Linked DNA regions of Homo sapiens. The protein of the gene in region 4 purifies or fractionates together with the protein of the main gene of each other region. This does not show direct contact. Each region holds a gene or a part of one and is shown on either strand. Other genes may lie near its edges. The genes, in order: DDI1, ACP5, CANX, OGFOD3, HS6ST2, LMF1 and SLC27A4.

Region 1 (4,247 bases), on a different chromosome or scaffold from region 4:
TTTGTTAATTGCATTTGTTTTGAGTTCTTAATTACAAACAAAAGTAGGAAAGAAATCTGTTCATTTGATCATTTTTAGTAGTTCTACTGGGTATAAAACTTTGTGCAAATGTAGACCAGACTGGGAAATGTGAGCATGGGAACACCTATAGAGAAGAAAAATGGGAGGTGAACTGATGGTGGCTAGAAAGGAAGAGGTGACTCTCTTTAGAAAGGTTGATTAGTATTACCAAGAAGCAAAACAAAAAGTATATGGAGATTATAAGGGAGAGTTATTTTTTTCTGTATCCTTTGGGAATGCTTTATGTGGCTTTATATCTTGTCGGGAAAATAGAATAACTTAAAGGATATCCCAGATCCTTTAAGATAATGAGGTTTTAGTGCTTGAAAAGTGACCCCTCCCAGGAAAAAAAAAATTATTAGGTGAGGAATCTCAGTTGTAAAGTAGGTGAACTAATTTGTCTAAGTAATTAAGTGTAATCAAAACATACACATCTTGATTTTGAATCCGCTGTTTTAATACTAGTTTTGATAAATTATTGTCCTGAAACATTTCCCCTGCATCTGATGGCCTCAGGAAGCTGAAACTTTTCTCTCAGGTGCTTTAGCCATGGGTTGTAATTAAGTCTAGGATCTTCCATTACCCACTGTCAGTTGTAATAAACACTAACATTGTCAGAATGGATAATTCTGAATGAGGCCTTAGAGATCTTCTCATTCAAAAGTTTTCAAATGTTATTTTAACAGTGAAAACCTTTGTTCAAACAATACTGATGTAGCAGCAGCTTAATGTATAAAGCAGATTTTTACTTTGAAAAAGAGAGAGAGATGATCTAGTTGCAATGACTATTAGAGAACCTGGACCACTGCCTGTCCCCACCTCTCATTCCCACCACTGTACAACTTGACTCCCAAGAAGTACCATAATTTCTTTTTTAAAAAATCTAATTTATTGCCTTTGTTTTATAGCCAGAGTTTCTTTGAATGCAGGAGAAATAGAAAATTAATGTAGCATCCTTGGAGATAAATCCACTTTCTCAAATATGGCAAAAATAGTCTTTAGCTGTGGATTGCAGGGTGACTGCAGGGGATCCAGGGGAAGGGAAGGTGTAAATATGAGGAAATTGGTCTTTATGCTGCCCCAAACAGACATGTATAAGTATTAGTTAACATCATAGTGTAACTGACCTACCATTTCTAATACCCTTCCCAAAGAAAACAAAACCTGTGAAAATGGGCATATTTCTCTCAGTAGAAAGAATTATTAGTGCTGATGTGAAATAGTTTTATGTGGATGCCTTGTAAGGTCTGCAGCCATAGCATTTTTCCAGGGAATTCTGCAAAATAGCAATGATTTGGATAAGCCACCTGTAATCTGATAGGATAGTGTCTCTAAAGGAAGAAGCTGGTTTTCTTTTTCATGGATTATCTGGAAATCAGCTGGAGCCTCCAGAGCCTTCCCAGGATGCCTTTCAGTGATCTCTGGACAAGGGAAATGGAAGAGGGACCAAGACCAAGGAATCAGGATTGACGTTAGTTACCCATCTGAGAACGTAGTCCCAAGGCCAGGTTTAGTTGTTACTGATGTTTTTTAATGATTACATTGCCAGTAAGCTCTTAACTTATAATTGCCGGGGACCTGAGGCTCCCTCAAGGTGGTAACATATTTATAACGTGCTTTAATGCTCTTTTCGTCCTGAATCCATGACTGAATGTGTAATTTCCTTGTCCGAAGACTCATCTTGCCCACTTACCATCCTAGAGCATAAGGGCAACTCTCCCTCAGGAAGAAAATAAGTCTGCGTGCCAGTGGTGCCGATGACCAGCACATTTTTCTTCAAATCGATGGAACATTGATGTCTCCGGAGCATATCTAGGCCTAGAAGCATATCCATGGGTTGATCCTCAAGTATGGAGAAAGAGCACTGTAAGAAATCACCTTCAATTTGAATCTGAGCTAGATGAACACGGCCAATAATTCTCTGTGTGCCCACTCCTTTAGCAACCCCAGCCCACCGTCGGTCCACCAGCCTCATGATGTTACATCGCTCGGCACAAGCCTGGCTCATAATGGTCATCTGGGCGCCCGAGTCAACAAAAGCCTTCAAAGGATGCCCATTCACTTTGCAGTTAATGTAGAGCATCGTCACTTGTCCAAAACTCTCGGGGGCCTCTTCTATCGCTATATTCATGTTTTCTTCAATGTTTTGCTGCCGGATTTCCTCTTCTATTTTGGCCTGAGCTTCCCGATCCAGTGGGTCGGCTGTGTAGAGACGAAGCCTCTCTTGCTCTCTCAAGGCCTTTTCCCTTTGCTGCTCCATCAGCACCTGAGAAAAGGTCTCAAGGCTTCCGCTGAGCAGGGCTTCCGCCAAGGGAGGGTTGCGTTCCTTGAGCAGGGACAGATCGTGGGGGTTGGAGAGCAGCATGCTGCGGATCAGGGCGGGGCTGCCCAGACCTTGCAGGCCGGCCACCTTCTCTCCTGACGCCAAGCCCTGTGACCGCTGGGCAGCGGGTGTGCGCTGCTGCTGCTGTCCAGGGTGCTGTGGACGGGAGCTGGACGTCCCAGGCACCGCAATGCCACTGAAGTCTACACGAGGCTGGTTCGGGGCACGCCCTGGAGCCCGAGGTCCCACATTGTCCTTCTGCAGTAAAACCACGATATCGCCATCTTTGAGGCCGTAGGAGCCCAGGGAACAGTGGTCCTCGATGAGGAGTCGCTCCATGTGGATGATCTGGATCTCTTCGACGGGGACTCTGGACTCCGCTTCGCAGAGGACCTTGAAGTTTCGGAGCTCAAAGTCGGGGCTGACCTGGAGAGAGAAGGTGACCTCGGAGAGGTCCCTCCGCACGCAGTACACGGTGATCAGCATGGCGGGGGCCCGGGCGGGCCGGGCTAGCAGAGGGCATGGGCGGCTCACTGGCGGGCTGGGGCGGGCCTGCGTCGTTGGTGCCGCTGCTCCTCAGGACTTGGTAGGTAGGGACCGTCCGGGCTCATTCACCTCTCAGAGAGGCGCGGACACTCATCTGTCTGGGGGCTGTCTCCCAGCCTCAGTGCCTGCTGTGTGGCCAGGTGGAGCCTTGAGGTAGCACGTTGTGTTCCAAAGTCCATTTCTAAGTGTGCTGTTTGGAACCTAGAATGCCTACTCCCATGGATACACGATGGCTCAAAGCTGTCAGGTTTCAAGGCCAGCCCTTCAAAGCCTATTTAACACATGATATGAAAGAAATGATTTCAACACATTTTTTTTTGAGACAGGATCTTATCCTGTCACCCAGGCTGGAGTACAGTGGCATAATCACAGCTCACTGTAGCCTCGACCTCGTAGGCTCAAGCAGTCCTCCTCTCTCAGCCTCCTGAAAAGCTGGAACTACAGGCACAGTCTACCATGCCCGGCTAATTGTTGTATTTTTTTTTAATAGATTTGGGGTCTCACTGTGTTGTCCGGGCTGGCCTCCAACTCCTGGGCTCAAGCAATCCCCCACACTTCGGCCTCCCAAAGTGCTGGAATTACAGGTGTGAGCCACCATGCCTAGTTTTTCAACACTTTCTAAACAGCATATTATCATTTGTTTTGTTCATTTTAGAGTTGTATTCTTTGTACTTTTGTTTTTTCCCCAAACAGTAAGGATTTGTTTCTTACATGGCAAGTACCATTCTATGTGCATAGTAGGAAAGTCAGATTTGGAGCCTGCCCTTGAGGAGCTCACATTTCTGGAAAGGGATAGACAGGTGAATGGGTAATCACAATACTAAAGGCAAAATCTTTTACAAAGACATGTTCAGGGTACTGCCTTTAGTATCACCAACAGAACAGAGGATATTTTCCTAAGGAGGAGACAAGCTGGATGTTGAAGGATGAGCATCTTCCAGGTGCAAAGTGGTCTCACTCCAAAGGAAAGCAGTTTCATGTTACAAAAGCAGGAATTTATGGCAAGGGCTGTTATTTCTAGAGAAAGATGAGACATTTTGTGCAATAAAAAAATTGTACATGACTTTGAATACCAGGATATGAAGCTGGAAAAAAATTAGTTGAGCCAATTGATGAAGTCATATGTGAATCTACGGAGTTTAAATATTAAATATTATCAATTAGCAAGAATTCCTCCTCCAAAAAAAAAAAAAAAAAAAAAGAAAAAGAAGTAAGGAAGGAAAGGAAAGGGAAAAGATTTGAAGCAGGTGTTTGTGATTTTTTTTTTTAAATTGACTTAAGGAAGAGGCTTCTTGCAACACATGGAGGACATAATGTG
Region 2 (4,397 bases), on a different chromosome or scaffold from region 4:
GGGGTAAGAGATGGAGGCAAGGAACAGCAGCTCAGGGGAGCCCAGCCACTCTAACCAGGAGAACATAACACACCAGTGGCACTGGTTCAGCCTTGGCAACTATTCTTTTATTGAACATCAGTAACAGAAAGATGCTTGATTTAGGAGGAAGCTTTCCCTCCCTCCCTCCCCCATTGCACCCCGGAACTCAGCAAAGGTGAGCCAGCCACAGAGCATAACACTGTGGCTGGGACACATGTCCATGTGTGTTTCACATACGTGGGCATCTGTGCCACAAGGGTCATGTGGCACCACAGTTCATCAGCTGTGTTTCCCCTTCCTGCCCTGCTGCAGCGCCACAGGTTGGAGGAAAAGCCTGCCTGTGAGCAGGGTCCCGGCAGGGCCCACCCACCCAACAGTGGAGATCGGGCCTCAGAGCTGGGCAGTCATGGGAGTTCAGGGCCTGGCTCGCCTCGGCAGCCTGGTCTTAAAGAGGGACTTGCCCGAGGCCTCGATGTAAGTGACAGTCATCTCTTTGGAGCTGATCTCCACATAGGCAAAGCCACCCAGTGAGTCTTCAGTCCCATAGTGGAAGCGCAGATAGCCGTTGGGGACCTTGCGCTGGTGCCGCTTTGAGGGGTCCATGAAATTCCCAGCCCCACTCAGCACGTAGCCCACGCCATTCTCATCTTGCAGGTACTGAGGATGGAGGACAAGGGGTCAGTGGAGACCCAGCTTTGAGCAGAGCCCTGCCTAAGGTCCAGGGCTCGATCTGGCCCTAACCACAGAGTCACCTTGAGGTATGTAACCCCTCCTGGCTTCAATTTCCTGACTTTTAGGAGTGTATTAATCCTATTTCATAGGTAGAGCACTTAGTAAGAAATTGGTGGCCAGGTGTGGTGGCTCATGCCTGTAATCCCAGCACTTTGGGAGGCTGAGGGGGTGGATTGCTTGAGCCCAGGAATTTGAGACCAGCCTGGGCAACATAGTGAGACCTTGCCTCTACAAAAAAAATGCGCAAGGGCCAGGTGCAGTGGCTCATGCCTATAATCCCAGCACTTTGGGAGGCCGAGGCGGGCAGATCACTTGAGGTCAGAAGTTCGAGATCAGCCTGGCCAACATGGTGAAACCCCGTCTCTACTAAAATATAAAAATTAGCAAGGTTTGGTGGCCCATGCTTGTAATCCCAGCTACTTGGGAGGCTGAGACAGGAGAATTGCTTGAACCCAGGAGGCGGAGGTTGCAGTGAGTTGAGATCGTGCCACTGCACTCCCTCTCAAAAAAAAAAAAAAAAGCAAAAATTAGCTGCATGTGGTGGCCCATGCCTGTAGTGTCAGCTACTCTGGAGGCTGAAGTGGGAGGTTCACCTGAGCCCGGGAGATTGAAGCTGCAGTAAGCCCCGATTGCACCACTGCACTCCAGCCTGGGTGAAAAACAATGAAACCTTGTCTCCAAAAAAAAAAAAAAAAAAGAGCTTAAAAAAGAAAGAAAGAAAGAAATTGGCAATTCGAAGATATTATTCTGGCTTTGGAGTGTTTTCCTGGTTAGACAGCAAGATTTGAGGGACAGTCTAGACATTCTGAAGGCCACAGGAGACCCTCAAACAGCAGGAGGACCCCAGCCATGTGGACATCAGCTGGGATGGGGACCCCCCTCACCCAGCTCCCACCCCACCCACAGGGCCCTCACCTGCAGATTGTGATCGTGGCCGCACAGGTAGGCAGTGACCCCGTATGTGGCCAGCAGTGGCCGTAGCTGCTTGACCAGGCAGTGGGTAGGCCCGTGCTCGGCTATGGACCACACGGGGTAGTGGCCAGCCACCAGCACGTAGTCCTCCCTGGCCGCCGCCAGCTGTTTCTTGAGCCAGGACAGCTGTGTGCGGGCCAGCTTCACGTCTCGGGGCCTCTCAGGCTGCTGGCTGAGGAAGTCATCTGAGTTGCCACATAGTGTCACTGTGTCCAGCATAAAAATGGCCACAGACACATTGGTCTGTGGGATCTTGAAGTGCAGGCGGTAGAAAGGGCTGGGGAAGTTCCTGTGGAGGGGATAGAGGTCGTGGGTGCACATCTTGGGCGCAGAAGTCCCAGGGTCAGCTCAAGCCACAGGGCCCCTGTGTCCCTGCTATGTGAGGATCTCGGAAGGCAGGGCTGAGGGTGGCTCACCAGCGCTTGGAGATCTTAGAGTATGCAATCTGGGCAGAGACATTGCCAAGGTGGTCATGGTTTCCGGCTAGCACGTACCAGGGCACTTTGCGAAGGGAGCGGTCAGAGAATACGTCCTCAAAGGTCTCCTGTAGCAAACAGATAGGGCAGGCCTCTTCCCTGGGGTCAGTGGCTATGCCGATCCTCCCACCAAGTCAGGATAAGGGAGACACTGAATGCTCCCGGCGCCCAAAGGTGCCCCATCACCTTCCCTCTGCCCTCACCAAAGGAAGGTCACTAGGTAAGGCGGCTTCTCCCCACTGCCCGCCCCCACCTCCTGCCCCACTCTGTTGGGCACAGACCTGGAACCTCTTGTCATTGATGTCTTGCACACCAGTGAAGTAAAAATTGTCCCCTAGAGACAGGATGAAGTCTGCACCCAGGATCTGCACAGTCCGAGCGATCTCCTTGGCATTGGCCATTTCCCGGGCCGTGTGGAATGGGGCATTGGGGACCCCTCCCCAGTCACCCACGGCTACAAAGCGCAGGGCAGGGGTGGCACCATCAGCCAGGGAGGGTAGCAACAAGGCTTGCAGGATGAGCAGCGCCGTCCACATGTCCATCTGGGAGAAGAGAGACAAGCATAGGTGGCCCGGGCTGTGACAAGGGCAGGGAGGCCTTGAGACCCCCGCCTGCCCTGAGATAGAGGGAGACTGCTTGCTGCAGGCTGCCCCTGCGGGAACCCCTTGGTGCCCTAATTCTCAGGACACACAAGCTGCACAAGGCTGCACAAGCTGGCTTAGGGAAGGGGGGCGCGGTCTGTGAGAGGGCGAGCTGTACCAAGATGGCCCTGCAGGCCCATTTCACCCTCCTTCCACCTAGCCTGCCCAGCACTCACCCAGGGGGAGACACAGGCCAGTCACCGGAGGCTCTGAGAGGCTGGTGGGCTCTAGAGTAGAACTGCCGGTCCCTGAGCCTTTATTCCCTGAGGAGGAAGTGGATCATTAGTGAGGATGATGCAGTTTCTCCGAGGGCTGTCCCGGGAGCCCTCCCCTTGGGTCATGTGAGCCCTGGACTTCCCTGGAGCAGGACACGGGATTGGGGTGGGGGTGGGAGGATCTGGGCACACGTGTGCAGCAGCCTCGGCCCACACAGCCTCCGGGTGGACCTGCAGGGGCCTGTTTGTGCTGTAGGCTTGACACGTCCAGGTATCTCTGTGTGTCTGTGTATCTCAGTGTGAGTGTGTGTGTGTGTGCACACTTGAGAGGCTGTGGCTGTGATTACCCAAGACACATCTCCTGCACCTTCTTTCTCTGAGTAAGGGCTTACCTGTGTGTGTCTGGGTGTGTCTTGCTTCCTGCGTGCAGCTGAGCATGCCTACCTGGGCCTCGGCTCTGTACCTGATGGTGTTGCTGCAGACATGTATGCTGAGCCTGCGAGGCCTGTGTGGCTTGTCTGCGATGCACGCCTGTGTTCTCACGTGGCACTGGGTGGGAATCCCTATGGATGGAGTTTTGTGTGTGTCCATGTGTGTGTGCCTGGGTTGCATCTCTAGGATGGGTTGCGTGTCTGGTGTGGGAGCTGTGTTTGACAACATCTGGGTGGGGGACTCCGCGTGTGTCCCCGTCCTCCCCCTGCCCTCTCTCCATCCCACACATAAACACCAACGGGCTTCCCTTTTCCAGGAAGTCCTGCCCACACCCTCCCCTCCCCCCAGACTCCCATTCCTGCAGGAGGAACCAGGCAGGAGGCAGCTAGCTGGTGATAGCGCGCGTGACCACAGACCTCTGACCCTCATAGTCTCAGCAGCTGTCTGCAGGCCCTCCACGGGACCGCAGCCTGGGAGGGCAGGAGGCCCTGCACCTGCGGCCGGTCTGACCTGCTCCTCACCTCCCTGCCTGCCTCCTCCGTGCTGGGCGCCGCCGCGACACGTCCCGCGGACATTCAGGAGTCCCTTCAGTCCCTGCGAGCGCGGACCCGGGAGAGAGCTCTCATTCAACGCTGAGGCCACTGGCTCACAGATCTCCCCGGGTCACCCTGCGAAGTGCTTGGTCCCCCCCATTCCCAGCCCTGCAGCAGCAACAAACGGGAAGGAAGTGGGTGACGAGGACAGGCAGAGACCCCTCCCACGGGGCCGCCCGCATCTCACCTGCCGTCGCGGGGCGGGCGTTGCGGCCGGTGCCCAGCTGCAGATCCGCAGGCGATCGCACTCCTGGCGGCCCCAGCTTTAAGCAGGCAGCGGCCGATCCGCCCTGCTCGAGGGCTCAGGGCTGACCC
Region 3 (3,771 bases), on a different chromosome or scaffold from region 4:
CTCAATAATATAAAGACAACCCAATTTAAAAATGGGCAAATGATTTTAATAGACATTTCTCCAAAGAAGACATACGAATGTAAAAATATACAATATGAACATACAATAAGCACACGAAAAGATGCTTAACATCATTAGCCATCAGGGAAATGGCAAATCAAAACGATACCACTTAGTACCAAGTTGGCTCTAATAAAAAAGACTCATAAAAACAAATGCTGGAAAGAACGCAGAGAAACTGAAACCCTCATACACTGCTGGTGGGAAAGTAAAATGGTACTGCTCATTTGGAAAACAGTTTGGCAGTTTCTCAAAAAGTTAGTTACCACATGACCCAGCAATTCCACTTTTAGGTATATATACCCAAGAGAAATGAAAATATATATCTATAGCTAGACAGAGTGGCTCATGCCTGTAATCTCAGCACTTTGGGAGGCCAAGGCAGGAGGATCACTTGAGGCCACACCAGCCTGGGCAACAAGGTGAAACCCAGTCTCTAGTAAAAAAAAAAAAATACACAAGGCCAGGTGCGGTGGCTCACACCTGTAATCCCAGCACTTTGGGAGGCCAAGGCGGGTGGATCACCTGAGGACAGGAGTTCAAGACCGGCCTGACCAATATGACGACACCCTGTCTCTACCAAAAAATACAAAAATTAAGCCAGGTGTAGTGGCTCATGCCTGTAATCCTAGCACTTTGGGAGGCCAAGGTGGGCAGATCACCTGAGGTCGGGAGTTTGAGACCAGCCTGACCAACATGGAGAAACCCCATCTCTACTAAAAATACAAAATTAGCTGGGCGTGGTGGCACATGCCTGTAATCCCAGCTACTCAGGAGGCTGAGGCAGGAGAATCACTTGAAACCGGGAGGCAGAGGTTGTGGTGAGCCAAGATCACGCCACTACACTCCAGCCTGGGCGACAAGAGCGAAGCTCCGTCTCAAAAAAAAAGAAAAAACATGCACAGCCAGGCACGGTGGCACACGCCTGTAATCCCAGCACTTTGGGAGGCTGAGGCTGGTAGATCACTTGACATCAGAATTTTGAGACCATCCTGGCCAACATGGTGAAATCCCATCTCTACTAAAAATACAAGAATTTTTTGTAGTAGTGCGCGCTTGTAGTCCCAGCTACTTGGAGGGTGAGGCACGAGTGCAGTGGTGCACGCTTGTAGTCCCAGCTACTTGGGATGCTGAGGCACGAGAATCGTTTGAACCCGGGAGGCAGAGGTTGCAATGAGACGAGATCGTGCCACTGCACTCCAGCCTGGGTGACAAAACGAGACTCTGTCTCAACAAACAAACAAAAAACCCATAAAAATTAGCCAGGCGTGCATACCTGCAGTCCCAGCTACTTGAGAAGCTAAGGCGGGAGAGGATCGCTTGACCCCAGAAAGTGGAAGCTGCAGTGAGCCGTGACCGTACCACTGTACTCCCACCTGGGCAACACAGAGATCATGTCTAAAGAAAAGAGGCCAGGTGTGGTGGCTCACGCCTGCAATCCCAGCACTTTGGGAGGCTGAGGCGGGTAGATCACCTGAGGTCAGGAGATCGAGATCAGCCTGACCAACATGGTAAAACCCCGTGTCTACTAAAAATACAAAAATTAGCTGGGTGTGGTGGCATGCGCTTGTGATCCCAGCTACTTGGGAGGCTAGGGCGGGAGAATCACTTGAACTCGGGAGACAGAGGTTGCAGTGAGCCGTGATGGCGCCACTGCACTCCAGCCTGGGCGACAGAGCTACACTCCATCTCAAAAAAAAAAAAGCAAGAAAAGAAAAAACATATTTATGTAAAAACCAGTACATGAACATTCATAGCAGCATTATTCATAATCACAGACAAAAAGGAGCAAACAACCTAAATGTCCACCAAAGGATGGATAAATAAAATGTGGCATTATCAAAACAGTAGAATTTATTCAATCATAAAAAGGAATGCAGTACTGATACATGCTTCAACACAGATAAACCTGGAAAACACTGTGCTAAATGAAAGAAACTGGACAGAGAAAGCCACATACTGTATGATTCCATTTTATATGAAATATACAAAGTGGACAAATGTAGAGAGGCAGAAAGCAGGTTAGTGGTTGCTGGGAGTTGGGGGAGGAAACAGGGAGTGGCCGCTTAATGGGTACAGGGGCCTTCTTAGGTGATAAAGCTAGTTAAGGAATATAATACTGAACAAGGCTAAGTCCAAATCTAATATACACCAAATATACAAGTAAACTTGGCATTTATACTAGTGCAGTACAAAAGTTCAGTTATATGTATCTTACCTTTCAAGGAGGAAAAAGATAATCTAGAATGTAATTGCTAAGCATAGGAGGATATTTTACAAAGGGTAAGAATTTCTTTGTTCACTTTCTGACATTTCTGGAGTCACTGTGTGAAGTTGCAAGTTCAAAGACAGCCATATACAAGAATACAGCCCCAGCTATCTTCATTTCTCCTCACTCTTCAATGTGCACCCTACATAAAAGGCCATGTAATTTCTCCCTCGCATGTCAAGCTCATTGCTGCTCCTCTACTTCTGCATACGACATTCTTCAATCAGAAACACCCCTTCCCATATTCACCAACTCCTTAATTCTCACCTCACTGCCAAGTCTCAATCTGATTTGCCTTGCTCCAAGAAACCATGCCTAGTTTAGGTACACCTGGTGCTCTGGTCTCCTGTGGCACCTTCTCATGAACCCTTACGATACCACATGCCAACATCATGCCTCACAACTGGACTTCAAGCTCTGTGTAGGCAGATGGTGGTGTCCTTGTGGCTTTGTATTCTACCACCCAACCCACAGCAGAGAATTGACTGTTGTTTAAATAGGAAAAAGGTTATTTTTCAAATTAAAATTTAGCATTTCAGAACTTTGGCTTTAAATGTGAGTTCACAGAAGCCCTGGAGTAGCCAGGTTAAAGGACCTGAGATTCTGCCACAAACCAACAGTGTCACCACAGACAAACTCTTATCAAGTGTGGCATTCTGTGGCTTGTAAAATGGTGAGTCAATCCAGATGATTACACTATGGCCCCTTTCCAGCTATAGTACTCTATATTTTCCCTACAGATTAGACTGCATCATGGATTACTGAAATTATCAGAGCTTACTCAACCAACATTTCGTTGTTCAAGCCACATGGAATATATGAAATGCTCCCTTACACTTGAAGACAGTTCCCCAAGACTCACCAGTCATCTGGCTTGACAGCTTCTGGATCTGGGATTTTTGGTCTTTCATCCCAATCCTCGGGCTTCCGGTCTTCTGGGTCCTCAATTTCACGTGAAGGATTTACAGGAGGAGTCATGTCATTGAGCAGATTTCCACTATTCACCACAGATTGGTCAACCAGTATTTCAAAACTATTATCTGGATTCAAGACTGAAAGAAACATTAAATGGAATTAAAAGTACTTAATTTTCCAAGCTCCCTTTACCATAATACAAAAGATCATGACTTCTAACGTGAAGCAGCAGAAGTCTGACCTGAGGCTTTGGGGTAAGAACAATGCCTGGCTCCTGGGGTCTTGGGGAAGCTAACGCCCATTTCCTTATGCACGAAACATAAATGATTAGTCCCTCGGCTTTCTAAGAATTACAGCAAATGATAGTTAAAATCTTTAACACCAAAGACTTGACTTATAGACACTAAAAAAAAAAAACAAAAAAAACAAGAAACTACATAAACTAACACAATTATTGGGCTTACACATATACACCAGTGAGAAGACAAATACGTGGACTTACAACTACTTCCCAGTACAAAAGGTCC
Region 4 (3,771 bases):
GGGCTCTGCCGCTGACTGACGGTGACCTCAGACATGTGGCCCCGTAGACACCAGCCTCCTGGGTGTTGGGACTGGCGCTAGACCTGGGAATCACTCAGCACCGGCCCGGCACACAGCAGATGCTCCGTGAACTCAGCCTCGCTCCCAGGGACACGCCCCCCACACCCACCGTGCTTGCCTGAGCCAGGAGCCCCACGCCCAGGCCCCGCCCGCGCCTCCTACCAGCTCTCGGCTCCACCGTCTTGTTGGCACCCTCCTCCATGAACATGAACCGCCCTCCGCCGAAGTCCTCCAGGTAGTTGGAGAGGTACAGCAGCGAGGTGTAGTCGAAGGAGCCGTAGGTCACCTGAGGGCAGAGCCGGGAGGAGGGGGCAGAATGGGCTCTCAGCATGCGACCAGGGCAGGTGCTGCTTCTCTCTCTTATTTTTTGTTTATTTATTTTTTGAGACAGAGTCTTGCTCCATCACCCAGGCTGGAGTGCAGTGATGCGATCTCGGCTCACTGCAATCTCCGCCTCCCAGGTTCAAGCAATTCTCCTGCCTCAGCCTCCCGAGTAGCTGGGGCTACAGGCACCCACCACCACACCCAGCTAATTTTGTATTTTTAGTAGAGACAGGGTTTCACCTTGTTGGTCAGGTTGGTCTCAAACTCTTGATCTCAGGTGATCCACCCACCTTGGCCTCCCAAAGTGCTGGGATTACGGGCATGAGCCACTGAACCCAGCCTCTTTTTTTTTTTAATAGGGTATCGCTTTTTTTACAGACAGCATCACTCAGGCTGTAGTGCAGTCACAGCACTGTCATTGCTTACCATAACCTTGAACTCCTGGCTTTAAACAATCCTCCTGCCTCAGCATCCCGGGTAGCCAGGACCACAGGCGCACGACACTACAACCAGCTAATTTTTTCTTTTCTATTTTTTTTTTTGTAGAGATGGCATCAGTCCACCCACTTTGGCCTCCCGGGTGCTGGGATTAGAGGCATGAGCCACTGTGCCTGGCTGATTTTTGTATTTTTTGTAGAGGTTGGGGCGGGGTGGTGGGGGCAGGGGGGCGGGTCTCGCTATGATGCCCAGGCTGGTCTCAAACTCCTGGCCCCAAGTGATCCTCCCACCTCAGCCTCCCGGGTGCTGGGATTACGCGCGTGAGTCACCAACATCTGTGCTTCTTATTTTCCAGAAGGTAAATTAACAACATGTGTCGGCCCCATTAATGAGGCCATTTGTTCCTTTGCAACTTTAAAAACCCTCTGCAGAGTCTCCAGCCTCATGCATTGTTGCCCAGGATTTCCTGTAAGCTCAGATGTTGGAGCAGCCGTGTTCCAGCAAAGGCTACGGGCAGCAGGCCAGCCAGCAGGGTGTGCATGCTGGGATGGTCCCCCGGTGCCAGCCTCGCTGCCCACACGTGGGAACCAGAGGCAGCGGTGGACGCGCTTTTCTCCTTTCTTCAGAAGTGGAGCAATCCCAAGCTTTTTAAAACTTGTAATAAAATGCAGAACCTAAGATTTTCCAGCTTAACTGTGTCTTCACTGTTTTTAAGCACAGTTCAGTGATGTTAAGCACATTTCCAATGTTGTGCAGCCACCGCACCGTCCTCTCCAGAACATCTCATCCTCCCAGGCCGAAGCTCCGTCCCCAGGAAGCACTGACTCCCCACGCCCCCCAGTCCTGCCCTCTCCATTCCGCTTTCTGTCTCTGTGAACCTGGCGACTCTAGGGTCCCCACGGACGTGGGATCAGGCAGGATCTGTCCCTCCGTGACTGGCTTACTTCACTCAGGGGTCGCAGCACTCAGCTTCCATTCCAGAACCCAGCTGGGGCCACGCCCTGGGGGTGAAAGGTGCAGCTGCCAGGACACCAGCTGCAAAGGGGAGGGCGCATCTCACCCAGCTCAGCTGTCATAAGCACACCCAGACCAGGGAGGGAAAGAGACACTCTGGGGAGGGAAGGGGGATGGAGCCGCACCAGCGCGGAACTGGACACCCACTGTGCGGGCGCTGAGCTAGGTACATCACACACAACAGAGCCTCGTGTGCAGTGGAGAGAGCCCAGGCTTGAAGGCAGACACCGGGCCCTCCCCCTGGGCAAGGTGGCCTCCTCTGAGTCCTCCTGGGAAGGAGAGCAGGATCACGCTGGGGCCCAGCCCCCAGTCCGACCCGCCAATATCCACCTCACATAATCCGCTGTAAGGAAGCCCAGTCTCAGGTGGTGCCCTGGGCGGTGGGTCAAGCTCCCTCCCCCCTGCCCCTCCCAGCTGCCAGGAGGCCCCTTGGGCTCAGCTCCCATGGGCTTTGCCCCCTCCAGGCCTCACAGATGCCCCCCGGAGTCCCCCCTTAAAAGCTTCCCAAACACAAGTCCATGCCAGGCTCTGATTCTGGGGAGACCAGAGTAAGACAGACGTCAAGTGAGCAAAGCCGCGTGCGGACTGCACTGCCTTCTGTAAAAAGGAAACCATACCAGGGTCCATGATCTGACAGCCACAGCTGCCTTATGTTATGCAATGGGAAGAAGGAACAATTGCCAAAACTGTTTTAAATGTGATTCTTTACAACTGACAGAATGCGGTATTCTTATGCATTCGTTTTTATACACACAGAGAAATTCAAGAAGGAACTCTGAGATCTCAGGACTGTGGTTACCTGTAGGTGAGGGGGTTACTGGTTCGCCTTTATTTATATACATATATATATATATGACTTTTAAATCTTGTAGGATGCATTACTTATTCAAATATTCAAATTTTGATGCATGATTTATTCAAAACTAAATTTAAAATAAAGTACACTGGCCAGAAGTCATAGCAAAATAGCTCCCCACAGAACACCACGAAAATCACCCAGGTTTCTAAACAGTTCTGTTTCACTGAAGTAAAGTCTCTGCTAATTAGAAAAACACTGATCTTCAGACGCCACTTTGGTTTCCTGATGAGCAGACAAAATTCGGTCAGGGGCCATGGAAGGAGCCGGGAGCGACCGGACCAGGGCGAATCTGCTGTCTGTGCCGGCGGAAGGCCAGTAAGTGCCGTGCAGTCGTGAAAAAGGAAGTGGTTAAAGTGGTTACGGCAAAGCGGTGGCGCCGGCTGCTCCCGACACTGCAGCCCGAGAGGGAGAGAGGAGGACTGAAGGCAGTCCCAGGCCTTGGGTTCCTTCACTGTTCCTGTTCCCTTGGGTTTACCTTTTTTTTTTTTTTTTTTAGATGGAGTCTTGCTCTGTCACCCAGGCTGGAGTACAGTGGCGCGATCTCGGCTCACTGCAACCTCCACCTCCTGGGTTCATGCCATTCTCCTGCCTCAGCCTCCCGAGTAGCTGGGACTACAGGCGCCCGCCACCACGCCCGGCTAATTTTTTGTATTTTAGTAGAGACAGGGTTTCACTGTGTTAGCCAGGATGGTCTCGATCTCGTGACCTCGTGATCCACCCGCTTCAGCCTCCCAAAGTGCTGGGATTACAGGCGTGAGCCACCACACCCGGCCCTGGGTTTACCATTTTAATGCCAAGTAGCAGAGTGCCAAGATGGCAGATGCTGATTGCAGATTATAACTGCAATCTCTCTCTCCTTCTGATTACAACTGAAACTGCACAGAGTGCACTTTGGGAGGCAGAGGCAGGTGGATCACCTGAGGTCAGGAGTTCGAGACTAGCCTGGCTAACATGGTGAAACCCCGTCTCTACTAAAAATACAAAAATTAGCCGGCCGCAGTGGCACGCACCTGTAATCCCAGCTACTCAGGAGGCTGAGGCAGGAGAATGGCTTGAACCTGGGAGGCAGAGGTTGC
Region 5 (3,771 bases), on a different chromosome or scaffold from region 4:
ATCATAGATTGGGTGTGTCATGGAGGCAAAGTACCAAGTTCTGTTACTAATGAGGTGACTTTTGTCAAGCACTAGCTCCACTCTGAGCCTTAATTTCCTCGCCTGTAAAATAAAATGGAGCGGATGACCATTAAGACAATGGTCAATAACATAGGTACCACTATCCCTATAATAGCTTTTATGGGGAAGTCTTGAGAATTTTGTTTTCTTTTTGCTTTAAAATTGCTAGATGATAGGACCATCTCTTTAAAACAGTTTTGCTGTATAACAAAGCAAATCCTGACACACTCTTTATTTTTACTATGGTGTTGATTAGTTGGACCAGATTATTGCCAGAGCAACTAATACCTGGTCTTAATGAGAGAAAACAAGAGGAGTACAGATGGTGAGATGGGAAAGAAACGGTTTTGGTAAATATCAATGGGGCCCTTTTTGAATTTTGGTGAGCTGAATGATGTATGAAAACTATTTGCAAGGCTAGCATATTTTTCAACCACTAGTAAAGCAATAAAACAAATAACATTTTTGGTAATCCCCATTGTATATGCAGTTTCATAAATATACAAGATTATGATTATCGCTGCCTCATAATTAACAATTTGCATAAGTACTTGCTATTTTTTAGTTGTCTGAATAGATTTTTGTAATCCAGAGAAAGAAGGGAACAATCAGTGGAAGCCATCCCAAATGCCTAGTATTATTGCTACACACTTGCACAATTAACAGCGATACTAATTGCTTCAGACCAGAACCTCATTTGTTTTTCTAAGGACAGCAAAAACATTAATAGCCAGAGTGCCTGTCAATCTCTCTCTCTTTTTCCTATAGCCAACTGTATCATAGGGTCTGCAGTTGACTGTAAGCAAATTATTTTGTTGGATTTTCAGTGTATCATCTTGTAATGGAGTTTCCAAGTTTCAGTTAGCAATCAATGCCTTGAACAGCCAGACTTATTTTTATAATATTTTAACAATAGACCTCTATAAAGTTAATGAATAAAAGGATGCTGACATGCCAATCAGTTCTGCTGCTGCATTTACATTCTACTACATATTTCATATCTTTAAAATTATTGGCATTAGACCTGCATATAAGAATCATAGAAAGTCCAGGCTGGAGGGGAGCTTTAAGATCATCCCGTCACACTCCCTCCTTTTTCAGATGAGTATGATTGTCAGTAATTTGAATCTTGATAACAACCACCAAATCAATGATGCCACACTTTTTTTTTTTTGTACCTTTCAAACGTTGGGAACTATTATAGTAAGTTTGAATGATAACTGGTTGTTTGGGAATCATATAGTTTCAACTTATTTTCAAAACAACTGAATCAGAATTTTAAAAATATGCCCTCATAAGGCTTACCTAAACATAGCCATAATGTTGATGGTATATGTGTGAAAGGAGATGTTCTATGCAAATCACCTGGCAATGAGACACTCAACCAATATCAGCTCTCTTTCCTTCATGCATAGATTACCTAATTAACATTACTATAGTGGAAACATTACATCAGTGACTGACAGTCTAGGCGTTTAGAGTCAAACTGACCTCGGGTCCAATCCTGGCGCTGCTACTTTCCAGCTGTGTGACGTTGGGTAATTTAGTTCATCTCTGTTGGCTTCAGGTAGTTTTCTTATATGTGAAATGTAGCCAGTATATAGGCTTGTTTTGAGGATTAAAATGAGATCGTGCATATCAAGTGCTTAGCACTGTTCCTGTCACATAGTAAACAGTCGATAATGGTGGTTATTACCATCGTTTTTTGGCATACCCAGCGGCAGCCTCACTCAATAGTATATTTAATCTTACAGTGATTTGGGGTACTTACACATACACCTGTACACATGCATATTTGGGCACACAAGTTCATAAGATTTGCATCAGAAAGACTGCTTTCCCAAAGGTTACCTGTGACCACCATGTTTCACAATTCAATGGCCTCTTCCCTGGCCTCAGTCTTCTTGACCTCTTTGGAGATTCTGGCACTTTTGCACATATTCTCTTGCTTGAAAGGGTTCATAATCTATCTTGATGTCTTCTCTACATTCCTTAGGTTTCCTTTGTTGGGATCTCTTTTCCACACGTACACACACACACACACACACACACACACGCGTGCCCACATCTTCTCCCTCCCCCACTGCCCCTTTAAATAGAGCAATTCCCAAGGTCCTGTCATTGATCTGCTTCTCTTCTGTTGCTATATTTTCTCCCTGGGTAACTTCACCTCCTCACATAGCTTCACCTTTAACCTCTACACTAATGATTCCCAAATTGACCTCTCCAACCCTTAATTCATTCCGGAGCCCCAGGCTAACTCCAATTTCCAATTGCCTGCTGAGAATCTCCAGGGCAGGATGTCCTAGGAGACTGAAAGCGTAGTCTGGCTTTTGTCATCCTTCTCAGGAATGCAGATGGAGGAATCTAGCTTCAGAAGTATTAAGGGTTGAAAACAAGGCACAAGTATGGAGCATTAGTCTGAGCAGAAGTAACAGTGGTCTAAGTTAGCAAAGTGCTTCAAACTGAGCTTTCCAGGGGAGGCATAACAGATAAACTGTGAATTTCTGTTATTATGCACTGGAGATGTCAATTGGCAGTTGGAACTTTAAAAGGTTTATATTTTCTAGGGATAAGGGAACAGCTTCCTAAGATGAAAATTGAGTTCAGTTTTTAGGTGCTGGAAGATTGGCATGTTTGGAAGAAGTGTTAATTAAAATCATCTTTCTTTTCTTTTCTTTTTTTTTGAGACGAGTTTTTTTCGCTCTTGTTACCCAGACTGGAGTTCAATGGCGCGATCTCAGTTCACTGCAACCTCCGCCTCCTGGGTTCAAGCAATTCTCCTGCCTCAGCCTCCCAAGTAGCTGGGATTTCAGGCATGTGCCACCACACCTGGCTAATTTTGTATTTTTAGTAGAGACAGAGTTTCACTATGTTGGTCAGGCTGGTCTTGGACTCCTGACCTCAGGTGATCCACCCACCTTGGCCTCCCAAAGTACTGGGATTACCGGCGTGAGCCACCATGCCTGGCCAAAATCGTCTTTCTTTGGACACTTATTATCATTAATCTTGTTTCAGTGTTTTGTTTAAGAAACGCACGTGCCAAGGGGAAAGATGATGTACTGAACTTGAATGATGAGCAGGTGGGAATTTTGTGAGAGCAAATGTGTGTGTAGACACATACACATATGCTGGGTCAGGTGTGCCTGAGATTTTGAATGTGTGCAAATAATTCTATCAGTGATAGATTTTTTTCTTTCATTCATTCTGCAGATATTTACAGAACATGCCAAGCTCTCTGTGGAGCAACACAGCTGTGAATATAGAACATATAGGGTCTCTGTCCTTAAGTGTCTAATACATTTTTTTTTGTTATATGCAGGTACATTGACAATTTAATTTAGTTTAGAAATATCTGCAACATGTCACAAATTGTTCAATGGCCATAATCTTGCTGACAATCTTAATGACCAAAGAGGAACTTAAGGGAAATAAGACAGTGTTAAAGTGGGAAAGGAATGTACATAAATCTGAATTAGAAATTGATTACTTCCTTTAAATTTAGTAAATATTGAATTGCTTTGGGGTTTTACATTTCAAGTTGGCTTGCCAGTGTTCCAGGCCAGGGTAAGAATGATTATGTCTAACCCTAAAACTTAATTAGAGTAAAGGAATAGACAACTCCTGGTTAATGTGTGTACTATTGTCAGGAGAATTAGTTGTAAATGAGTTATTTCTACAGAAACTGCAGGCTCAGGGCTGATATCTTTA
Region 6 (3,771 bases), on a different chromosome or scaffold from region 4:
TATTTTTTCTTTAAGGGATGTGCTGCAGAGCTCCGAAGTAGGGCAGTGCTGTTTGCTTTTTAAACAAGCAAGTATTTTATAGAAGAACTTGTAAAACCAAGTGGTGCATTTCATTAGAACTCAAGTGGCCCGGAGAAAAGAAAAAGAACTCATTTCCCATGAGCTCTTAGAGCCACTGAAAGCTCAGAACAAAACCAACTGAGCAGGGTTTCAAGTATTCTTTTTGGTTTCATTTTCTCCTCAAATTTTCTGAAGAACAGCTGAGAGTTTAGCAAATACGGGTGCAAACGATTCTGCCTGCCACGTCAACCCTGCCTCGGGTGTCATCTGACGAGGATGCCAAGCTACAAGGGCTGCGGTGAGACTCAGAGACACGCTACCAATGGCACCGCGGCCCCACCTCGCCGAAGCAGCTGCCGGGGAGACGCGATAAAACTGCCCCACGCGGAAAAGAAGGAAGGGCGGTGAGCAGGCGCACAGAACAGACGCCACAGTGCGGCACGCATGCCTCCACGCCTAAAGGACAAAACTAGCATGGAGATCCCCTAGAGGTCGGATTTTCAACATAATCTCAGTGAGCCCAGGACTCCAATGTGACAATGTGGAACTGGAAAGACGAGCAAGAAAAGCCCCTCCGTTCCCGCCAGCGTTGGGCATTCCTTCTGCAGTCCAGGCTGTCCCCGTCACTCGGGATCACAGCCAAGCGGTGGGTTCTGTGTGGTGCTTGGCTCCTAGGGCCTCGCGGAAGCCATGTTCTTCTCCATTCAGCTTCATGGAGAGACTTTCCCAGGTTTCAGCCCACGCTACGAAGCTAGACAGGAGAGTGGCCCCCACCCGCCCTGTTTGGAACCCAGCTGGGGCATGCGGTGTTTGGAACACATGGGCAGATTGGGGAGAGGCCAGAAGAGCCTCATCCAGAGCCAAGGACAAGCCTTGAGGCTGAAGAGCTCACCAAGGCCACTACAAGAGAGCAAAAAAAAGAGCCTCAGAGACTCCTCGATAAATAACCAGAACAGAGAGCAAAGGTGGAGAGCAGGAGGGCAAGGCACTGAGACTTTAGAAGCTTCCAGGGAGAAGAAGAGTCAGATGCTTGAAGATGCCTCCTCAATGCTGCAAAGCTCTGAGGGAAAGTGGCTTTGATGGAGAATTAGAGATCCGGGCAAGTTGGTCCTTTCTGGAAAAGCTGCTTGGGGATACACTCCAGCAAAAAGAGAATCCACCAGCAAACAGGAAGGCATGAGCAGCCCAGGAAGTATGAACACAACCAAGGGAGGGCTGTGGCAGTATCTGTCCTGCTGGGCCGCACCTCGGGGCTGGAGGTGGGTAGAGGGGAAAGAAGGGGTAATGGCTGGAAAAGTGTCCCATGCTGACACTAAGCCCTGGTAGAGACCACCTGCTACGGGTCAGCACATTTCACTGAGCAGGAGATGCCCCTAGAAGACAAGGGATAGAGGTATAAAGAAAGTCCTCTCCCTGACTGCAAGGAGCTAGAGGGGAGACAGGCACAAGAACAACACTGGAATGGGGACAATATCAGCCGCAAAGGAAGCAGAGAGCAGGGCTCCGGTGGTCAGCCCTGGGTGGGGTCAGGAGTCCACGAGTGATGAGGGCTAAGTCTGAAGGCCAGAAGGGTGTCGGCAGCCACGGAGAGAACAAGTACAGTTAACCCTGGGAAGGCAGAGGCCAGGTGGTCTCAGGACCACGGTCAGGAAGAGATGCCTCACGTGGCGGGGACACAGCGGGAGCAGTTCAGGCACCACGGCTCGTCCACTGGGGCCCCAGCCTCTCACTGCAAGCAGTGCAGGTGGACATCTGCCCCAGAGGCAGCAGGGAGCGTGTGTCCCAAAGCCCCCAGCACTCATGCCCTGTGCAGGCGCCGAGCAGCCGGCCCTGGCCGGGGCGGTTCCCTCCTAGGCCTGTCCAGGACTCGGCCCCCACAAACACATGGACCGACAGACGAAATCCCTCAGGAGTGTCTCTGCGCCGACGCCATGGCACCCACGAAAAGTGCCACACATAAAGTCAGTCTGCAAATGCCAACGTTACCCAGTCTTCATGTCACATTTCACCTACAGATCCCTTCCGAATTGTAACAATATCTCATAAATGTTTGAGCTTCAAAGGAAAGGTCCTTTCCGACGTTCAGATATATATACTCCGTGGCTGCCTGCGAGCCGTCTCCCAGGCGGGTGTGTCCTTGGTCCGCCTTCTGGGAAGTGTGCACAGGCAAGGAATCCCATGTCAGCCTCAGGACGGCCCAGCGGTCACTCTCACCTCATCAGTGACAGGAAGGTCTTGATGAGCAACTTGGCCAAGGCCACACAGCTAAGGTGTGGCCCACCAACCCTGAGCCCCACTACTTCCACCTGTCACAGCTTCCAGAAAGTTCTCTGCAGTGAACTGCTATCAACCCAATTCTGACCAACTGTAATTACACTGTTTCCAGATAACACCTTAATTCTGAGGCAGTTAAAATGCATTGTGTACATATACTATGTGACTCTCATCAATAGCAAACCAACGTCAGTTCAGTCCAGGAGAACCCACCCAGGGTGGGCAGCTCTAGCCTAGGGTGTCTTCAGTAGCACCTGCAAGGCTGTCCTTCCCCCGTCTTGTCAGGGAATCCAGCTCTACCACTGGCGCTGTAACAGACACAGGGCTGCTGGAAATTCCAGGAGTCCAGCCCCAGCTGCCTGTGGCCGCCCATGGACGGACCTGGCCAGGCCCCCTGGGAGGGGGATTTCAAAGCATCAAGGAGCCGGCCTGGCTGACGAGGCTCCAGACCAGCTGTTTGCCACACACGCCCCCGTACTGCAGGGTTGACCAGTGAGGGCCTCAATCTTCCGCAGGGAACGCCGGGCCACAACGTCGACGCACGACCCTGGGGGTTCCTGCCATAAAACAGTGAGGGATTCTGGCCAGGCTGCTCTGCCCTCTGTTCCGGTGAGCCTGGGCATGGTGCCCACTCTTGGGTTCGGTTTCCTTATTGCGCACACAGACAGCAGCAGGCCTGACTGCAGGAGGCACCGGCACCCATGGGCGGCCGGCACTGCCCCTACACACCAAGAACATGGCACCCAGGTCCCGCTGCTTAGGCCGGAAACTCCTGTCACATAAGCTTTTACTCGTCCAGATTTCAGCCATTCCTGGGAGTGACATCTGTGCTGAGGGGAAGCTCAGTGTCAGTGTCAGGCATCCCCGACCACCTCGGGCAGCCTCGGTCCTCCCAGGAGCCGTCACGGCCCGAGAACGCCGCTGCCCAGATGTGAACCGGGTGTCCAGGATACGCAGGCTGCACAGTGGCGTGAATGAAGGGCAGGGCTGAACTCCAGGGCCTACGGACAATCGCTGCACAGCCGGGCCAGTGGCTGACCCTGCTTCCTCGCTGTCCACTGGGGGTAGTGGCGTTGTCACCAGGAGGTCAGCACCGGGCAGGGTGCTACTTCAGCATCTGCTCAACGCAGTAATCACACTAGGGACCCGAGTCCACACGTCAGGAAGACAGGTGTGTCTTCAACTCTGAGCCCTGTGAAAATGCCGCTTTCCGCTAACACACTCCGGCTCCCACAGCACAGCAGGGCATGCCCGACACCCCAGGACGCCCGCGGTATGCACGTCTGTGTGCAGTGAGCACACCCCTAGCACCTACACACCTCGGTGGCAGCACATGGAAACGCCCAGGCCCGCGGTGGGAAGGAGCCAGCCCCAGGACGGATGCAAAGTCAGGTTGAATGCAGAGGCCTGTCGCTGGCAGCCGGCCTCTCCAGGTCT
Region 7 (3,771 bases), on a different chromosome or scaffold from region 4:
GGTGGTGCGCACCTGTAGTCCCAGCTACTCGGGAGACTGAGGTAGGAGAATCGCTTGAACCCAGGAGACAGAGGTTGCAGTGAGCCGAGATCACGTCACTGTGTTCCAGCCTGGATGACAGAGAGAGGTTACGTGTCAAAAAAAAAGATACTTACCTGAAGCACTAGCAACATGGCTGATGCTAGGTGGCCCCTCAGTACAATGGTAATCATCCTTGTGACTAATTAGGCCGTATCTAGCTCATCTGTAAAATGGGAACAAAATTAATTCCCCACTTTCCTCACAGAGCCTGCATTTTATTTGCTGCCACATTGGGCACCTGCAAAGTACTGAGGTTGCTGCTTTCCAAGAGCAGCTCTAATCTCTATAAAGACCGAGTGAGGTAGGGATCTTGGTTTTATGGATGATGAGCCTGGAGTTCAGAGGGGTTTGTGAGGAGCTCACCCAAGATCACACAGTTAGTAAGTGGTAGAACTGGGGTTTGATCTTCAGCTTGATCACAGCACTCTGTTTTTTCTCCCCACACTGTTGTGGTTGTGGGATAATGAATAGGGAAGTCATTAGGATGCTGAAAGGGGGCCTGGCATGGTGGCTCACGCCTGTAATCCCAGCACTTTTGGAGGCCAAGGAGGGCAGGTCACCTGAGCTCGAGAGTTAAAGACTAGACTGGCCAACATGGTGAAACCCTGTTTTTACTAAAAATACAAAAATTAGCCAGGTGTGGTGGCACACGCCTGTAATCTTGGCTACTCAGGAGGCTGAGGCACAAGAATCACTTGAACCAAGTGAGCCGAGATCATGCCACTGCACTCCAGCCTGGGCGACAGAGTGAAACTCTGTCTTAAAAAAAAAAAAAAAAAGATGCTGAAAGGGGGCCAGGCACAGTGGCTCATGCCTGTAATCCCAGCACTTTGGGAGGCCAAGGCAGGAGAATCTCTTGAGCCCAGGAGTTCAAGACCTGCCTGGACAATATAGTGAGACCCTGTCTGTCTCTATTTAAAAAAAGCAAAAGAAAAAAAAAAAAAAAGAAAGGAAAGAAAAAAATGGTGCTGAAAGGGGAGAGGGAAGAAGGCAGCCAGGGAAGAAGAGAGGGTTGGGCAAATCAAGAGGAAGCCAGGAAGGTGGGGCCAAGCCGACCAGCGCTGCTCCATGCCCGGGGGTGGGGGTTATGTGATGTCCGTGCAGTGCGCAGGGGAGCCTGAAAGCAGGTTCCCGCTCTCGGAAGGGGATGGAGGGCCACTGGCCTCTGACCCGCACTCCTCCCTTCTATCTGGTGCACCACAGAGTAAGTAGTGCGGGATAGTGGGGGGGAGCCCAGACCTTGATGTGAGGTAGAGCTGGCATTGCACGCCAGGTCCAGCACATTCTAGCTGTGAGCAGGTCCTCTCATTCTCGGAGCGTCAATCTTCTCATCTGTAAGAGGGGCTGTCAATGGTCCCTCCTTCCCAGGGCTGTGAGACCAGGGAATGCAGGTAAAGCGGACCTACTCTGTGGTTAGCCCATGGCTAATAGAACCATTGCCGGTGCCCCTGTCAACACTGAAGGCCCAGTTGCTTCACTGCCTCTCCTCCTGCCCAGCCAGTATCCTCAGCAACATGGCCAGCCCTGCTGGGAGCAGAGGTCCCTGGGAACATGGGGTTTTCTGGCCTGCCTGCTGACTGCCCTGTCTCCCCACAGCCATCTGTGAGGTCCATGCCAGCCTGGACCCCTCGCTCAGCCTCTTCTGCTCTGGCTCCTGGGAGCCCGGTGCGGTGCCTCCAAGCACAGAACACCTGGACCCTCTGCTGAAAGATGCTCCCAAGCACCTTCCCAGTTGCCCTGACAAGGGCTTCACAGGTGGGCTCCATCCCCTCCCCATAGAGGGGCTCTCACACAGGCCCTGGACAGAGCACTGGCCTCAGTGCCAGAAGGAGGCTTTTCTGGAAACTTGCCATGTGCCTGGAACATGTCACGTCACCTCCCTTTTTCCATCTGGAAAATGGTGACAGTAAACCTGGGCCACTCCAGGGTTACTGTGAAGGTGACATGAGCTGATGTGTATCAGTGCCAGATACAGGGCTGAGAACACAGGAGCTCACAAAGTCCAGTGTGATTTGTTGAACAAGCCTTCATTGATGCCTAATGGGCAGAATCCTGTGGACTCCGGGAACCTGCCTGGTCTGGGCTTTGGTTGGGGTTGGGTGGGAGGGTGGGTGAGGAGCAAGACCCTTTGTATATTCATCAAGTGCCTCTTCAGTGCAGGACACTTCAGGATCTCCAGCTGTGATCCTCTCCCAGCACTGTGCTGCCTCCCTGACCCCACCTCCAGGCAGCCTTCCTGAGCCTCTCACCCCTCTTCTTTTATACTGTAGCCTACCTGGTTCTTCTGCTCTTCTCATTCTCTTTCCTGTGAAGCCACATTGCCTGGTGGCTCAGAGCTTGGGCTGTCGAGTCAGATCCGAGTTTATATCCTGGTTCTACTGCTTCCTTTGTGTGAACCCTGACACCTGCCCTGCCCTTGGAGCCTCAGTTCCCACAGCCATAAAACTGGGGACAGTAGCAGAACCTACTCTATGGGGTATCTTTGAGGGTTGAAAAAAATACAGTGGGGCCAGTCCTGAAGCTAGGGTGTGGCAGGAGGGGCTCAGTAACTGGTCATTGTCATCAGCACTGTTTAACTTCTCTCTTGTATGTGAATCTGGTCTCTTGGGTGCATTTGTCAGCTGCTTGAGGGCAGGGACTCTGGCTGGTTGCTCTGGTGCCCTCATAGTGCCTAGGGCTGGCAAACAGCAGGCAGGCAGAGAGCATGAGGTGTCTCGGCAGGCATTCTAAACACGTGGAGTCTGCCTGTGGAGTTCCTGACCTCCAGGGAACCTCAAGTCTGGTAGGGCCGAGCCTCACATAGAAACTCTAACGTGGCAATCCCTGTCGAGGGCTGCAGAGTGGGACAGATCAATGCTCAGCAGTGCGGAAGCTACCTCAACACCCCACTTCCTGCAGCTAATGCCTCCCTGTGCTCTATGACTTGGGGCAGGTGTCACCTTTATCGTGAAGCCCACCTGGCACCACCTCCCCTCCTGCAAGCTTGGGCCAAATGTGGCTACTGGGTTTCAACAGGTCCTGTGCCCTCCCTCGGCACTTGTTGCTTAGTATTGGAATTGCCTGTGTCCTCATCTGACTGTTCCACTGAGCTGTGACTGCCAAGAGGGCCAGGCCCGTGCCCATCTTACTCACTGATGTCTCTCTCCACCAGGGCCTAGCACAGAGCAAGGGCCCAGGAAATATTTGTTGGAATGGATGCCGGTGTTAGAGCTGAATGGTATCTGAGGTTATCAGAACAGGCTTCCTAGCAAGGGTGTGATGGGAACAGGTGTTGAAGGGTGCACACCTGCAGGTGTCCATTTGTGTGACCCTTTGCCCAGCCCTGAGCTGCCCCCGACAGCCACTCGCGTCTGTTTTCTTTAGATAAACTGTTCTACATCTACACATCCGGCACCACAGGGCTGCCCAAGGCCGCCATCGTGGTGCACAGCAGGTAAGGGGCAGGTGCCCAGGGTGGGGTAGGCACAGGCAGGGCTGGGGAGCCTCCTTCTGCCTTTCTAGGGCCCGCTCAGCCCTTGGCCCTGTGCCTTCCCAGGTATTACCGCATGGCTGCCCTGGTGTACTATGGATTCCGCATGCGGCCCAACGACATCGTCTATGACTGCCTCCCCCTCTACCACTCAGCAGGTAACTCTAGGGCTGTCACACAGCCTCCAGCACCTGCCAGGTCTCTAGGAACCCCACCCCCAT

Evidence for each region.
Region 1: the proteins of OGFOD3 (region 4) and DDI1 purify together in Homo sapiens (affinity purification with mass spectrometry; one large-scale study listed by BioGRID and IntAct). This does not show direct contact.
Region 2: the proteins of OGFOD3 (region 4) and ACP5 purify together in Homo sapiens (affinity purification with mass spectrometry; one large-scale study listed by BioGRID and IntAct). This does not show direct contact.
Region 3: the proteins of OGFOD3 (region 4) and CANX purify together in Homo sapiens (affinity purification with mass spectrometry; 4 studies listed by BioGRID and IntAct, with this or other methods). This does not show direct contact.
Region 5: the proteins of OGFOD3 (region 4) and HS6ST2 purify together in Homo sapiens (affinity purification with mass spectrometry; one large-scale study listed by BioGRID and IntAct). This does not show direct contact.
Region 6: the proteins of OGFOD3 (region 4) and LMF1 purify together in Homo sapiens (affinity purification with mass spectrometry, with the first as the bait; one large-scale study listed by BioGRID). This does not show direct contact.
Region 7: the proteins of OGFOD3 (region 4) and SLC27A4 purify together in Homo sapiens (affinity purification with mass spectrometry; one large-scale study listed by BioGRID and IntAct). This does not show direct contact.

Annotation. Positions count from the first base shown.
Region 1 is NC_000011.10:104,035,445-104,039,691, reverse strand, and holds DDI1 (protein DDI1 homolog 1), read right to left. Parts: upstream 3,053-4,247; 5' UTR 2,870-3,052; coding exon 1,679-2,869; 3' UTR 496-1,678; downstream 1-495. UniProt on the Homo sapiens protein: Probable aspartic protease. Seems to act as a proteasomal shuttle which links the proteasome and replication fork proteins like RTF2. Required, with DDI2, for cellular survival following replication stress.
Region 2 is NC_000019.10:11,574,575-11,578,971, forward strand, and holds ACP5 (tartrate-resistant acid phosphatase type 5 precursor), read right to left. Parts: upstream 3,072-4,397; 5' UTR 3,019-3,071; intron 2,744-3,018; coding exon 2,483-2,743; intron 2,270-2,482; coding exon 2,142-2,269; intron 2,015-2,141; coding exon 1,669-2,014; intron 780-1,668; exon of another isoform or gene 679-779; coding exon 436-678; 3' UTR 86-435; downstream 1-85. UniProt on the Homo sapiens protein: Involved in osteopontin/bone sialoprotein dephosphorylation. Its expression seems to increase in certain pathological states such as Gaucher and Hodgkin diseases, the hairy cell, the B-cell, and the T-cell leukemias.
Region 3 is NC_000005.10:179,715,715-179,719,485, reverse strand, and holds part of CANX (calnexin isoform d precursor), read right to left. Parts: intron 3,588-3,771; coding exon of another isoform or gene 3,486-3,587; intron 3,382-3,485; coding exon 3,192-3,381; intron 1-3,191. UniProt on the Homo sapiens protein: Calcium-binding protein that interacts with newly synthesized monoglucosylated glycoproteins in the endoplasmic reticulum. It may act in assisting protein assembly and/or in the retention within the ER of unassembled protein subunits.
Region 4 is NC_000017.11:82,397,974-82,401,744, forward strand, and holds part of OGFOD3 (2-oxoglutarate and iron-dependent oxygenase domain-containing protein 3), read right to left. Parts: intron 1,501-3,771; exon of another isoform or gene 347-1,500; coding exon 223-346; exon of another isoform or gene 1-222.
Region 5 is NC_000023.11:132,703,534-132,707,304, reverse strand, and holds part of HS6ST2 (heparan-sulfate 6-O-sulfotransferase 2), read left to right. Parts: intron 1-3,771. UniProt on the Homo sapiens protein: 6-O-sulfation enzyme which catalyzes the transfer of sulfate from 3'-phosphoadenosine 5'-phosphosulfate (PAPS) to position 6 of the N-sulfoglucosamine residue (GlcNS) of heparan sulfate.
Region 6 is NC_000016.10:964,462-968,232, forward strand, and holds part of LMF1 (lipase maturation factor 1), read right to left. Parts: intron 1-3,771. UniProt on the Homo sapiens protein: Involved in the maturation of specific proteins in the endoplasmic reticulum. Required for maturation and transport of active lipoprotein lipase (LPL) through the secretory pathway. Each LMF1 molecule chaperones 50 or more molecules of LPL.
Region 7 is NC_000009.12:128,346,868-128,350,638, forward strand, and holds part of SLC27A4 (long-chain fatty acid transport protein 4), read left to right. Parts: intron 1-1,677; coding exon 1,678-1,836; intron 1,837-3,444; coding exon 3,445-3,514; intron 3,515-3,616; coding exon 3,617-3,708; intron 3,709-3,771. UniProt on the Homo sapiens protein: Mediates the levels of long-chain fatty acids (LCFA) in the cell by facilitating their transport across cell membranes. Appears to be the principal fatty acid transporter in small intestinal enterocytes.